Homo sapiens: one gene and its partners. The protein of the gene in region 4 purifies or fractionates together with the protein of the main gene of each other region. This does not show direct contact. Each region holds a gene or a part of one and is shown on either strand. Other genes may lie near its edges.

Region 1 (3,500 bases), on a different chromosome or scaffold from region 4:
GTTGATGTTGTCTGTGTGACGGAAATGTAAGCCAGTTGCCTGAAAGGGAAGGAAAAAGAAAATCTATTTCCACAGTTCTCAGCACTCCCTATGGGTAAAGCCCAGACTACAGCTTAAAGATTCAGGAGAGATGGGCAGAGGGGAACCAGAGGACCACATCCTGTGGATTTTCCATCCCTACCAGGACAGAGAAACATAGATTAATAACACTCCCTTTTATCCAGATTTGGACAATAAGTTATATGGTCACTCTACCCTCACAGCTTTGAGGAGAAAGCATAGTTTGAGGGGACGAAGGTAGAAGGTGGGGTCCAATCCTCCCACCTGGTACCGCAGCTGCTCCACATCGTAGATCTTCTTCAAGGGAACCACGGAGGGTGCAAAACAGTGGCCTAGCTTGGCCAGCAGCACTCCATTCCGAAGGCTCTCCTCCAGCTCCACCGGGGAAGGAAGCTCCTCCTTCAGGCAGGCCTCCATCCAGCTATGAACATGAGAACACCTTCTCACGCACTCTGGCAGACCACAGTGATTTATTCTAACAACAGGAACTTCCCTCTGTCCCTCCTTTTAAGTGGCCCCTGACCCTCCTCTGCTTCCTGTTCCTGCTCTACCTCCAACTCCCTTCTCTGCCCATTGCCTGGCTGTTCCCACCTTCTCCTAGGTTGCCCCAAATATCTGGACTGGCCAACCCTCAGCCCCACCCACCCCAGCAAATCTTCCTTGACAGATCCTGAACCTGCCCATCTTCAGTGAGGCTTAACTGTTACATAGCTTCTCACTCAGTCTAGTTACATGCTTTTTTTTTTTTTTTTTTTTTTGAAATGGCGTCTCGCTCTTGTTGCCCAGGCTAGAGTGCAATGGTGCGATCTTGGCTCACTGCAACCTCCGCCTCCCAGGTTCAAGTGATTCTCCTGCCTTCAGCCTCCCGAGTAGTTGGGATTACAGGCACACCCCACCACGCCCAGCTAATTTTGTATTTTTAGTAGAGATAGGGTTTCTCCATGTTGGTCAGGCTGGTCTCAAACTCCCGACCTCAGGTGATCCGCCCGCCTTGGCCTCCCAAAGTGCTGGGATTACAGGCATGAGCCACCGCGCCCGGCCCTAGTTACATCTTTGACTGCTAAACAAAATAGAACGTGCTCACTTCTTTCATTCTGGGTTGTTCTCTGAGAACCTGGGTGCAGAAAGGTCATGTCTGCCTGAATGATCTACATGGCTCATAACCCAGCTTTGATGATGATGAGAGTAGTGGGGCTGGTGGAAGGGGAGCAGCACAAAGGGACAGAACGACCACAGCTCTTGGAGTCCGAAGGCCCCCTTTCCAACCATCTTCCCTACTTCACCTCTGTGAGCCTCAGTTGCACAATTTGCAAAATGAGGATAATGCCACCTGTATTTCCTTCAGTGGGCAGCTGCCAGGATCAAATGAGCTAATGAATGTGAAAACACTTTGAATATAAAGTATTATTATTACTGATGGTTGTATGAGGGAGAGATTAAAGTCTACTCAGATGGAATCTCCAAACTTCCCTACATATTGGGGTCTAATTGGAAAGTATCTGTTTCCAAAAAGAGAGCCAGTTACACATTGTTCCATGTCTTCCCTGCCTTAGACACCTGATTTTTCCTGATTGCCCCATCCTCCTGACTCCTTTAAGAACATTAAAAGAATCCTGTTGATTAAAAGCAAAGAATTAAGTACGTATCCTGCTTTTCCTGTACAGATTGACTTTTAGAGTAACCGAATAGTCCTAAGATGATGAGGGAATGTTCTTTAGGATTTCAGCTAGTAAATATGGAAGAAATGACAGAACTAGAAAATAGTCATTTTACACCCTTGATAAAATAATAAATTCTGATGTAGACCAACAATGAATGAAGGCATTAGATGAAAGTTAATGGGAAATTTTATGATGTGTAAATCAGGTTGGTTTCACCTAAACTCCCAGATTGAACTTAGCATCACTAAAAGTGGAACAAGCAGACATTGTATTCTTTCTATAAGATGTGATATGGAACATGTATCTTACATATGTTAAATATCACATATTTTAGATATATGTATTGCAGTATATAAGGGGTAAAAGGATCTGAGTGGGGGAAAAAAAACCACCAACACTAATGAAGTCTTCTTGTCAAAAATGGCTTTTTGTTTTTGTTTTTTTTTGAGACAGAGTCTCACTCTTTCACCCAGGCTGGAGTGCAATGGCATGATCTTGGCTCACTGCAACATCTGCCTCCTGGGTTCAAGCGATTCTCCTGCCTCAGCCTCCTGAGTAGCTGGGATTACAGGCATGCACCACTGCGACCAGCTAATTTTTGTATTTTTTTTGTAGAGACAGGATTTCACCATGTCAGCCAGGCTGGTCTCAAACTCCTGGCCCCAGGTGATCTGCCCGCCTTGGCCTCCCAAAGTGCTGGGATTACAGGCGTGAGCCACAGCGCCCATCCAGGTTTTTCTGTTTGTTTTTGGAGACACAGTCTCACTTTGTCATCCAGGATGGAGTGCAGTGGTGCCATCTTGGCTCACTGTGGCCTCCTCGACCTCCCAGGTTCAAGCAATCCTCCTTCCTCAGCCCCCCAAGTAGCTGGGACTATGGGCACACGCCACCATGCCTGGCTAATATTTGTATTTTTTGTAAAGATGGGGTTTCGCCATGTTGCTTGTCAAAAATGTTGAACCCAAATCTAATTAAGCCAACATTCATTTATAGGAAATACAGGGTATACAGGAATAAGCTGAATGACACAAGAAAGCAAATAGACACCCATCTCTAAAAAACAGAAGGAAAGAAAGAAAAGAAATAGAGACAAAATGTAGGATGTACTTCAGGAAAATGACCCAGTTTTCTTCAGCAAGTCAATAAGATAATGAACTGAAAAAAGGAGATGGGCTGCTCTGGATTAAAGAAGACATACAAGCAGATGTAATTAGTGAGCTTTTTGGATCCTTATTTGAATAAGATAACTGTAAAAACAGATTTTTTTTTTAAGACAAGCAGGAAAATTTGAAAATGGCTTGGGTATTGATCTTCCAAGGATTTAAAATAATTTAGTTGGATATTATAATGGCATTGTGGCTATATAAGCGAACGTCCACATATTTTGGAGATACATATTGCGGTATATAGTGGGTAAAAGGATGTGACTGGGATTTGCTTCAAAAAAAAAAAATTAAAAAGCTATTTCAACTCGCCCTTTCCCACAGGATGGACTCTCGATCTGTTGCATTTGCTTTAGCGGCAGATGCCTAGGGTGGGGTGGTAGAAAGGGAGAGCAGAAAGAGTCCATCTTCCTGGACTCCGCTCACCGCTTGGCCTCCTCCAGCCGGCACAGGTACTGATAGGCAACATTCTGCCGCCTCTGCTCATCCATCTCCTCAGCTGTGAGGCGTTCATCTGAGGAGTTAAACGGGATAAGGTCAATGAAGAGAGCATTAGAGGTGCCTTAGCACTGAAGGGTCTTTTTTTTTTTTTTTTTTTTTTTTGAGACGCCCAGGC
Region 2 (3,588 bases), on a different chromosome or scaffold from region 4:
TCCCAGCTACTCAGGAGGCTGAGGCAGGAGAATCTCTTGAACCTGGGAGGCGGAGGTTGCAGTGAGCTGAAATCGTGCCACTACACTCCAGCCTGGGTGACAGAGTAAGACTCTGTCTCAAACAAAACAAAACAAACAAACAAAAAACCCAACAAAAAAATTAGCTGGGTATGGCAACACATGCCTGTAGTCCCAGCTACTTGGGAAGCTGAGGTGGAAGGATCCCTTGAAACCCAGGGTTCATGGCTGTGACCTAGCCTGGGTGACAGAGTAAGATGCTATCTCTCCAAAACAAATTTTTTTAGGGGCCGGGCATGGTGGCTAACACCTGTAATCCTAACACTTTGGGAGGCCTAGGTGGGCGGATCATGAGGTCAGGAGTTTGAGACCAGCCAACCTGGCCAACATGGTGAAACCCTGTCTCTACTAAAAATAACAAAAATTAGCTGGGTGTGGTGGTGCGTGCCTGTAAGCCTAGCTACTCGGGAGGCTGAGACAGGAGAATCGCTTGAACCTGGGTGGCGGAAGTTGCAGTGAGCAGAGATTGTGCCACTCCACTCCAGCCTGCAGCAACAAGAGCAAAACTCCATCTCAAACAAACAACAAAAAAAACAAAAAAACTGACTGTGGTGATAGCTGCACAACTTTGTGAATATGCTAAAAAATGTACATTATACATTTGAAGGAGATAAACTGTATGGTATATAAATAAAGCTGTTAATAATTATATATATATATATATAAATTTTTTTTTTTTTTTTTTTTAGATGGAGTCTCTCTCTGTCACCAAGGCTGAAGTGCAGTGGCACAATCTTGGCTCACTGCAACCTCCACCTCCCGGGTTCAAGCAATTCTCCTGCCTCAGCCTCCTAAGTAGCTGGGATTACAGGCGTCAGCCATAACACCTAGCAATTTTTTGTATTTTTAGTAGAGATGGAGTTTCACCATGTTGTCCAGGCTGGTCTTGAACTCCTGACCCCCTACCTTGGTCTCCCAAAGTGCTGGGATTATAGGTGTGAGACACAATGCCCAGCCTGTTAATAATCTTTTAAAAATATTATTATTATTTTTTTGTAAGTGTACCTCTATGTGGTTCCTTTACTTAGAAATCCTGGAAGACTCCCTGCTGACCATGTACCACCATCTAAGCCCTTCAACTGGGCAAGCCAAGGCCCTGCAAAGTCAGGCTTGGATCATCTTTCCAGGCTCACCTTCTATGGCCACCCCCCTCCAATCCAGCTACAGCAGGCTTCTGCTTTCCTGCTCCTGTGCCCTTCCTCAGGCCTACCCTGCACTGGGCTGCCCTTCGCTGATCCAGAAGTCTTACTATGAGGTTTTGGTCCAGCTCAAATGCCAGTCCACCCATCACATTTTCTTCCCTGCCTACTCCCTGCAGAACTATTACATTGTATTCAATGTGTTGGTTTGGTTCTTCTGTTAGATTGAGAACTTAAAAAATGAGGTCTTATTCCTCCTTGTGTCCCTGGTGCTTAGTCCAAGCTCTCACTCTTGTGGGCCTCACACTTTGTACCTCAGTCTCTGCCTTCCGGGCTCAAGTGATCCTCCCACCTCAGCCTCCCTACCTATAGGCATGCACCTAATTTTTTGTAGAAATGTTTTTTTTGAGATGGAGTCTCACTCTGTCACCCAGGCTGGAGTGCAGTGCTGCGATCCTGGCTCACTGCATCCTCCACCTCCCGGGTTCATGCAATTCTCCTGCCTCAGCCTCCCAAGTAGCTGGGATTACAGGCATGTGCCACCACGCCTAGCTAATTTTTGTATTTTTTTAGTAGTGATGGGGTTTTGCCATGTTGGCCAGGCTGGTCTCGAACTCCTGACCTTAGGTGATCCACCCGCCTTGGCCTCCCAAAGTACTAAGATTACAGGCATGAGTCACCGTGCCCAGCCAGATCTGTTTTGTTGTTGTTGTTGTTGTTTGTTTGTTTGTTTTAAGACAGAGTTTTGCTGTTGTTGCCCAGGCTGGAGTACAATGGCACAATCTCAGCTACAGGTGCCCACCGCCATGCCTGGCTAATTTTTGTATTTTTAGTAGAGACAGAGTTTCACCATGTTGGTCAGGTTGGTGGTCTTAAACTCCCTACCTCAGGTGATCCACCCAGCTCAGCCTCCTGAAGTGTTGGGATTACAGGCGTGAGCCACTGCGCCCAGCAAGATGGGGTTTTACCGTGTTGCCCAAGCTGGTCTTGAATTCCTGGGCTCAAGTGATTCACCCATCTTGGCCTCCCAAAATGCTGGGATTACAGGTGTGAGCCACCACACCCAGCCTTCATACATTTTTATCAAATAAATCATGACGGGTGAACCTCTACTAATTTTACCTAAACCTGCAGGGTTTCTGGATGTCCTAGTGATGGTCAAGGACTTCACGTTGAAGCACTGCTTCCCAAGTCATAGGCCTAAGAAACTCCCTTTGTGGATGACGCAGCTGCTTATGTAACACATGCCCAGGGAGCTCTGCTTCCCCTCCACTGTGCTGCAGGTATTCCTGGACTAGGTTTGCCAGAGAAAGCCCTTGAGAGCCTTGACAAAAACGAATGGAGGGGACAGCAGATTAGTTACAAGGCCCTACCTGCAAAGCTTGAGCCATGGGACTTATCAGCAGGGTCCTGGCACATACATGAGGCCAGCGTGAGCAGCCTGAGTGAGCAGTGTGGGTTCAGACCTGCAGAGACAGCTGCCACCCTCACCCAATGCTCCACATGGGAAGGAGGCTCAGGGCTCTATCTGACACTTCAAAATGAAGATAGATTTTATGATAACTGTCCCAAGTTTTAATTGTTGGTTCCTTACATGCTGTTCTTATTCGAAAGAACAACAAATCCTCATGTGGCCAATGGGTGCTCCCAGTTGGGCCCTCAAAGCCATGGGAAAAGTCTCTGTTACTATGTGGACAGCACAGTGCATGGTTTAAGAGCACTGACTGTGGAGTTATTCAGACCAGGTTTTAATAATACACACTTTGTGAACTTAGGTAAGTTCTTAACCTCTCTGAGCCTTATTTCAACTATAAAATGGGATAAAGATATAGCAGCTGCATTAGAGAATGGTTTGAAGACTAGAGGAAACCTGTACCTGGTACACTGTAAGCCTTAGCTCAAGAGATGCGAGTTACCCAGAGGAGCCACTGACCAATGCCATGCTTCTCCATGAGGGCAATGAGGTCGGCCTCGGTGAGCAGCTTGGGTGGGCTGGTCTCCCCGTCCACCATCTCCACGGTGCTGGGCTGAAAGTGGGATCCTTGCTCATAGACAGGGAGGATCTACAGGGAGCGGCAGGTGCAACAGTCAGATGATTCCATCAGCACACTCAGGCAAAAAATAACCTCATTTCAAGGAACATGATCCTGCTCCACTAGAGAACTCAGGGCTCACAACACAACTGTCCTCCCTCTCACTGGGGACCACTCTTTATTACCTTGTCACTCCAGTGATCATATGGATACACATCCAGATAGTTTCGGGCCAGAATCATGAGGCCATGGGCCACAAAGCGTTCCTGAGCGATGTCGATCTCCACTGTGGTCTCCTGCCCCTGAGCATCCTGGGAGCAGCAAGCCAGGAAATGGCG
Region 3 (3,588 bases), on a different chromosome or scaffold from region 4:
TGAGCTGAGATCGCACCACTGCACCCCAACCTAGATGACAGAGTGAGACTCTGTCTCAAAAAATAAAAATAAAAAATACTGATTAAAAGCTATAGATTGATGTGTTTATCTTCACTTCCTCCTTAAACTTTAATTAAGTGGTAGCAGAAGAATAAAAAGTGATAAACCCACAAGGGCAGAGAGAACAGGGAGAGAGGAGGTAAGAGATCATAAAAAATGGCAACATGTTTTTGAAAGCAAGCAAGCAGATGAATGAGTGTGAGAACTGTTTTAGCAGAGCAGATGGTGAAGGCTTAAAGTAATAAAGAGAAATCATTTTGTCTTTGTGATACTGTCCCAGGTTGCCCCTGGTATTAGGGAGGATTAATTCTGGTTGCAAGAAGAAACCCATATCAAGCCAAAGTAAATTTTAAAAGAAAGTAATACTCTGTTGGTGCCTAAAGCCTCATAGGGCCTAGAATCAAGAATTGGGAGCCATGAGGAGCCAGGGTATTCTCTCTCCAGTGCCATTGTTGCTTCTCTCTCTGTGTCGCTGCTTCTTTCTCTCCATGCAGACCAGCTTCCCCTGCCACCCACATGATGGAAGGTGGCCTCGCACGGCTTCCAAATGTTTAATTTTCTGTTAGGAGATTGTCTCAGTCTGAGGCTAGACTCTCTTTGTCCCGATTCAGATTCTTCAGGAAGGGACCATGCCCCAGCTCAGGTCAGGTCTCCCCCTCTGCTCTCATTAGCTGTGGCCAGAGAAGTGGGACCGTGCTTACTAACCATACCCCACCTCCCTGTAAACCAGTAGGCCGGGCAGGAAGAGTGCAAGAGAGGCAGAGACCCCAAAAGATGTCTTCCACATTCTTCAGATAACTTAACCTTAGCAAAGCAAACGTGATATCCTAATACGCACAGTAACTGGTGGGGAAGCCCCCGGCTTGGCATGGTGAGGGCAACGAGGAATGGTATAATAGTTCTCTCTCTCCTTCCTGGATGTAAAACTACCCTCTAGTTCCCTTTTGCCTTTGCAGATGCTGTCAGCCCTTCCTAGCCTTCTCCTTCCTCCGGTTTGCTCCCTGCCATCCCCTGCCCCACGCTCTACCCTCCTACCTCTACACTCCCTGCCACAATGAATGCTTCAGTGTTGCCCTGGCCTTGGCCTCCGTCTTCCCCCGTACCAGCTCAGAGGAAGCTAGAGCTTTACATATCCTGTTTAATTTTCATAGCAACTTGCCTTCCCCAGGTCTGCTCTGGGCCCCGCTCCCAGTTTGCACCCCACCCTCAGTGGATCTCAGAGTGCTTTTCCTCAATTGTCCAGTTTTCCCATGTCTTTGCCCTCAGCCGATGAACTTGCAACTTGGTTTTCTGGAAATATTAAGGCATCTACTCAGGCTCTCTCAGAGACTTTCAGCCATTCAAAAAAGTTAGAGAGTAATGTAACGAACTACAGGCATACCTCAGAGAAACTGAGGATTTGGTTCTAGACCACCACAATAAAGCAAATATTGTTAATACAGCAAGTCACACAAAGTTGTTGGTTTCCCAGCGCATATAAAAGCTATGTTTACACTATACTGAAGTCTATTAAGTGTGCAGTAGCATCATGCCTAAAAAAAGTACATGCCTTAATTAGAAAATACTTTATTGCTAAAAAATGCTAATCATTTGAGTCTTCAGCAAGTCATCTTTTTGCTGGTGGAGGGTCTTGCCTCGGTGTTGATGGCTGCTGACTGATCAGGGTGGTGGTTGCTGAAGGTTGGGATGTAGGGTCCAGCCCCACAGGGTCGGTGGGTTTTTCTCCCTGTGTGCGGAGATGAGAGATTGTAGAAATAAAGACACAAGACAAAGAGATAAAAGACAGCTGGGCCCGGGGGACCACTACCACCAAGACGTGGAGACTGGTAGCGGCCCCGAATGCCAGGCTGCGCTGATATTTATTGGATACAAGACAAGGGGGGCAGGGTAAGGAGTGTGAGCCATCTCCCATGATAGGTAAAGTCACATGGGTCACGTGTCCACTGGACAGGGGGCCCTTCCCTGTTTGGCAGCCGAGGTGGGGAGAGAGAGAGAGAAAGACAGCTTAGGCCATTATTTCTGCATATCAGAGACTTTTAGTACTTTCACTAATTTTGCTACTGCTATCTAAAAGGCAGAGCCAGGTGTACAGGATGGAACATGAAAGCAGGCTAGGAACATGACCACTGAAGCACAGCATCACAGGGAGATGGTTGGGCCTCCGGATAACTGCAGGCGGGCCTGACTGATGTCACGCCCTCCACAAGAGGTGGAGGAGTAGAGGCTTCTCTAAACTCCCCCGGGGAAAGGGAGACTCCCTTTCCCAGTCTGCTAAGTAGTGGGTGTTTTTCCTTGGCACTGACGCTACCACTAGACCACGGTCCGCTTGGCAACGGACATCTTCCCAGACGCTGGCATTACCGCTAGACCAAGGAGCCCTCTAGTGGCCCTGTCCGGGCATGACAGAGGGCTCACACTATTGTCTTCTGGTCACTTCTGAGCATGTCCCTTCAGCTCCTATCTCTGTATGGCCTGGCTTTTCCTAGGTTATGATTGTAGGGCAAGGATTATTATAATATTGGAATAAAGAATAATTGCTACAAACTAATGATGAATGGTATTCATATATAATCATGTTTATGATCTAGGTCTAGGATAACTCTTGTTGTTTTATATATTTTATTATACCGGAACAGCTCATGCCCTCGGTCTCTTGCCTCGGCACCTGGGTGGCCTGCTGCCCACATTGGGGTGGCTGTGCTAATTTCTTAAAGTGAGACAATGATGAACTTTGTATCAGTTGACTCTTCCTTTCATGAAAGATTTCTTTGTAGCATGCGATGCTATTTGGTAGCATTTTGGCCACAATAGAACATCTTTCAGAACTGGAGTCAATCCTCAAACCCTGCCGCTGCTTTTATGTAAGCTTATGTAATATTTATTCTAAATCCTTTGTTGTCGTTTCATCAGTGTTCACAGCATCTTCACCAGGAGTAGATTCCATCTCAAGAAGCCACTGTTTTGCTCATCCGTAAGAAGCAATTCCTTATCTGTTTTTTGAGATTGCAACAATTCAGTCACATCGTCAGGTTCCACTTCTAATTCTAGTTCTCCTGCTATTTCCACATCTGCAGTTACTTCCTTCATTGAAGTCTTGAATCCCTCAGCCATTCATGAGGGTTGGAATCAACTTCTTTTAAATTCCTGATAATACTGATATTTTGACCTCTTCCCGTGAATCATGAATTTTTGTTTGTTTGTTTTTGAGACAGAGTCTCACTCTGTCACCCAAGTTGGAGTGCAGTGGTGCCATTACAGCTTACTGCAACATAGCCTCAACCTCCCAGGCTCAAGCAATCCTCCCACCTCAGCGTCCTGAGCAGCTGGGACTACAGGTGTGAGCCACTACACCCCACTAATTTTTTAATTTTTTTGTAGAGATAGGATCTCATTTATGTTGCCCAGGCTAGTCTCACACTCCTGGGCTCCACTGATTTTCCCTCCTCACCCTCCCAAAGTGCATGGTACCCAGCCCGTTAATGTTCTTAATGGCATCTAGAATGATAAATCCTTTCCATCAGGTTTTCC
Region 4 (4,307 bases):
CACCTGTAATCCCAGTGCTTTGGCAGCCTGAGTTGGGAGGATCACTTGAGTCTAGGAGTTCAAGACCAGCCTGGGCAACACAGTGAGACTTCATCTCTACAAAAATCTTTTTTTTCTTTTTTTTCTGAGACGGAGTCTTGCTCTGTTGCCCAGGCTGGAGTGCAGTGGCGCCATCTCAGCTCGCTGCAACCTCCGCCTCCTGGGTTGAAGCAATTCTGCCTCAGCCTCCCAAGTAGCTGGGATTACAGGTGCCCGCCACCATATCTGACTAATTTTTGTATTTTTAGTAGAGACGGGGCTTCACCATGTTGTCCAGACTGGTCTTGAACTCCTGACCTCGTGATGCACCTGCCTCGCCCTCCCAAAGTGCTGGGATTACAGGCATGAGCCACTGCACCCAGCCTACAAAAATCTTTTAAAAATTAGCCGGGCTTCATGGCACACACCTCTGGTATATGTTTATATGTACAGTAAGTCCTCAGTTAACGTGGTCAGTAGGTTCTTGGCAACTGCAACTTTAAGCAAAATGACACACAGCAGGCCCTTGAATGACACTGGTTCATTCAATATCATTTTGCTGCAACACTGATGAGAAAAAAATTGGTTTTGCTACGTCATTTCACTTAAAGTCAGTTTCCAAGAACCTATGGACAATGTTAAGTGAGGACTTACTGTATACACACGCACACACATCTTTGCTCACTCATGTAAGTGTATCTGTAGAAGAAAATACTACAAGTCTTAGCTTCAAAAGTAAAACTATGTATCTTAACTTTTGAATTGACTCATATAGCTCATCACACACCAGCCTGAGAGAATATAAATAAATGCTTACTCACACTATTGACTTTATTAAAATCTGGCATGGTTTTCTTGAATGGCAATTTTAAATACACATTCCCTAAGACCCAGCAATCGGAATTCCAAAGTGTACACTCAGTTACGAAGTGCACAAAAATTCACACAAAGGCTGCCTATTACAACAAAAGTATAATGGCAAACAATTGGAAAAATCTAAATGAAAGGCCTGGCATGGTGGCCCACGTCTGTAATCTCAACACTTTGGGAGGCCGAGGCAGGAGGATTGCTTGAACTCAGGAGTTTGAGACCAGCCTGGGCAACATGGCGAGACCCTGTCTCTACTAAAAACACAAAAAAAATACTTTGGGAGGCCGAGGCGGGCGGATCACGAGGTCAGGAGATTGAGACCATCCCGGCTAACACGGTGAAACCCCGTCTCTACCAAAAATACAAAAAATTAGCCGGGTGTGTTAGCGGGCGCCTGTAGTCCCAGCTACTCGGGAGGCTGAGGCAGGAGAATGGCGTGAACCCGGAAGGCGGAGCTTGCTGTGAGCCCAGACCGCGCCACTGCACTCCAGCCTGGGTGACAGAGCGAGACTGTATCAAAAAAAGAAAAAAAAAAAATAGCTGGGTGTGGTGGTGTGCGCCTGTGGTCCCAGCTACTCCGGAAACAGGTGGGAGGATCGCATGAGCCCCGGGGGATGGAAGTTGCAGTGAGCTGAGTTAGAGATCGCGCCACTGCACTCCAGCCTGGGTGACAGAGCCAGACCCTGTCTCTAAAAATATATATAAAACAACAATAGTAAAATAATAAATTGGCTGGACATGGTGGCACCCACCTTAAGTCCCAGCTACTAGGGAGGCTGGGGCAGGAGGACTGCTTGAGCCCAGGAGTTCGAGGCTGCAGTGAACTATGATCAGGCCACTGAATTCCAGTCTGGGCGACACAGCAAGACCCTGTCTCAAAAAAAATTAAAGCAGTAAAATTCACAGAGACAGAATAATGGTTGCTAGGGGCTGAAGGGAGGGGGAAATGGGGAGTTTGTTTAATGGGAGTAGTTTCAGTTTTGCCACATGAGAAAAGTTCTGGAGATGACGGACGGCTGCACAACAATATGAATGTAGTCAACACTACTGAACTGTACATTTAAAAATGGTTAGGATGATAAACTTTATTTTTCATAAAACCCAGTTTCTGCACAAAAAGATAAAATTTATGTTATGTGTACTTTACCACAATTTAAGAAAAAATTTAAATTCTCATCCCAACATTACCACGCCCCCCACCCTTAGCCAACTGGTGAATGTTTACTCATTTTTCAACGCCTAGCTCAAATGTCTCCTCTTGCCACGCCATCCCTTAGCTGACCACCCTTGTAGTTGGCCATTCCCTCTTTTATGCCAACACTGTGCCCTGCACGTACATTATACCTCTTACAGCACTTATCAAACCTAGTAATTATTGCTTTACAGATCCGTTTCCACTACTAGATTACAAACAATTTGGGGGCGGGGACCTTGTTTTACTCATCTCTGTATCCCCTAGACTTAGGGCTTGATAAGCTGAAAAGAATCAAGAAGGGCTTGATTAATTAAGGCTCCTCTGGCTTTTAAGGAGACCATACTGGAGGGTCATTTGCCCAAAAGAAGAGGCATCGGGGTCTCCTCAGGTTTTAGAAATCTGGTCAAACATCCAGAGCTGACTCCCACACCCTACTGCGAGAAGAGCGCGAGCGCGCGTCTCAAAAGGCTCCGCCTCAACAGTTCGGGTCCCCAGGAGGATCCGGGGGCCACCCCACCTCCACCCTGGGCCAGGTCGGTTAGCTAGACCCGCCCAGCGGTCCAGACATACCTTAGGTAATGAGCAGCCTGCTCTGGGCTCAAGGCCTCGGCTTCCGGAAACCTTCGGGATGCCTCCATGACCCTCGGATTGGGTTCCAGTTACCCCGGCGGGAGTTTGGAGCTTGGAGCTTGGAGCTTGGAGCTTGGAGCTTAGAGTTTGGAGCTTGAATTTCGCTCACTCCCGCCCCGCGCATGCTCTGTGCGCCGTGGAGAGGGACACAGCCAACCGACGGCCTCGCGGCCGGCCAATCCGCGACCACGCGCTGCGACGCCTCCGCCTGAGCCCCGCCCATGACGGTGGGCGCCTGCGCCTACGCGCGCCGGGAAGCAGAAGGTGATCTCTGCCTTCGAGACACGGAGTGTGCTGCCTCAGTCTGTGATCCCTCGCGTTTCAATCCAATTCAAACCATGCTGCAGCCAATTCGTTCGCGCGTGCGTGTGCCATCATTGTGAGTGGAGGAGACTGCCCGATATGATCCCAGTCATTGCGGCGACCCCTGGAGATCTCCAACGCCTGCGTCCCCCAACCATACCCTGCCCCGCATCCACAGATATCTTCCCTTCCTTGATCGCCAGTACCTGGCACTGACCGTGCTTTGAATTCAAACACCCTGGGAGGCATAGTCCCTGTGATTTAAACTAACATTGAAGAAGCGACCAGACGCGGTGGTTCACGCCTGTAATCCCAGCACTTTGGGAGACCGGGGCGGGCGGATCACGTGAGGTCAGGAGTTCGAGACCAACCTGGCTAAAATGGTGACACCCCGTCTCTACTAAAAATACAAAAAATTAGCCGGGCGTGGTGGCGGGCGCCCGCAGTCCCAGCTACTCGGGTGGCTGAGGCACGAGAATCGCTTGGACCCAGGAGGTGGAGGTTGCAGTGAGCCGGGATTGCACCACTGCACTCCAGCCTGGGTGGCAAAGCGAGACTCCATCTCAAAAAAAAAAAAAAAAAAAAAAAAGGCTGGGTGCAGTGCCTCACGCCTGTTATCCTAGCCTTTTGGGAGGCTAAGGTGGGAGGATCACTTGCACTTAGGAGTTCGAGACCAGCCTGGGCAACATGGTGAGACTCCCGTCTCTTTAAAAAAAATTTTTTTCTTCTCCACAGGGCGTTATGCTGTATTTATTTTCTTAAAAAGAGAGAGAGAAAGAGAGAAGGGTCTTCAAGAATCTCAAACCCTGGAGGTGGAGGCTGCAGTGAGCCAAGATCATGCCACTGCACTCCAGCCTGGGTGACAGAGAAAGACTCCATCTCAAAAAAAAAAAAAAAATTAAAGTTCTTATTTAAGAAATAAGTAACTAGGTTCACATACTTGGTATAATAAAAGGAAGACAAAAATAATTTAAAAAAAAAGAAGTAGTGCTGTGGTCATCATTTCTTCAGAAGCACCAACTAAGATACAGTCATTTTCAAATGCAGAGCCTAAAAAGAAGGCAGAGCCTAGAGCTTAAGGAAATGTGATTGAGTTTAAGTGGCTTGCTTGGGTGACACTAAATAGGAGGTTGTGGGCCAACAAAAATTGTCCTTGTTCATATACTGTTAAGAACACAGACATGACTCCTCAAGACACTAATTTAGCATTCAGTATTGGAAAACTCACCTATTGGCCCAGTCATACATCATATGTCCAGAGAATTTTAAGCTTTTCATAAAATTTATAGAC

What was found.
Region 1: the proteins of ERCC6L (region 4) and IQGAP3 purify together in Homo sapiens (co-immunoprecipitation; one large-scale study listed by IntAct). This does not show direct contact.
Region 2: the proteins of ERCC6L (region 4) and TOP3A purify together in Homo sapiens (tandem affinity purification; one large-scale study listed by IntAct). This does not show direct contact.
Region 3: the proteins of ERCC6L (region 4) and PPT1 purify together in Homo sapiens (co-immunoprecipitation; one large-scale study listed by IntAct). This does not show direct contact.

Annotation. Positions count from the first base shown.
Region 1 is NC_000001.11:156,566,066-156,569,565, forward strand, and holds part of IQGAP3 (ras GTPase-activating-like protein IQGAP3), read right to left. Parts: intron 3,399-3,500; coding exon 3,311-3,398; intron 482-3,310; coding exon 325-481; intron 43-324; exon of another isoform or gene 40-42; coding exon 1-39.
Region 2 is NC_000017.11:18,287,407-18,290,994, forward strand, and holds part of TOP3A (DNA topoisomerase 3-alpha), read right to left. Parts: coding exon 3,436-3,588; intron 3,281-3,435; coding exon 3,151-3,280; coding exon of another isoform or gene 3,116-3,150; exon of another isoform or gene 3,094-3,115; intron 1-3,093. UniProt on the Homo sapiens protein: Releases the supercoiling and torsional tension of DNA introduced during the DNA replication and transcription by transiently cleaving and rejoining one strand of the DNA duplex.
Region 3 is NC_000001.11:40,083,730-40,087,317, reverse strand, and holds part of PPT1 (palmitoyl-protein thioesterase 1 isoform 1 precursor), read left to right. Parts: intron 1-3,588. UniProt on the Homo sapiens protein: Has thioesterase activity against fatty acid thioesters with 14 -18 carbons, including palmitoyl-CoA, S-palmitoyl-N-acetylcysteamine, and palmitoylated proteins. In contrast to PPT2, PPT1 can hydrolyze palmitoylated proteins and palmitoylcysteine.
Region 4 is NC_000023.11:72,236,191-72,240,497, forward strand, and holds the start of ERCC6L (DNA excision repair protein ERCC-6-like), read right to left. Parts: upstream 2,838-4,307; 5' UTR 2,722-2,837; coding exon 2,654-2,721; intron 1,759-2,653; exon of another isoform or gene 1,641-1,758; intron 1-1,640. UniProt on the Homo sapiens protein: DNA helicase that acts as a tension sensor that associates with catenated DNA which is stretched under tension until it is resolved during anaphase. Functions as ATP-dependent DNA translocase. Can promote Holliday junction branch migration (in vitro).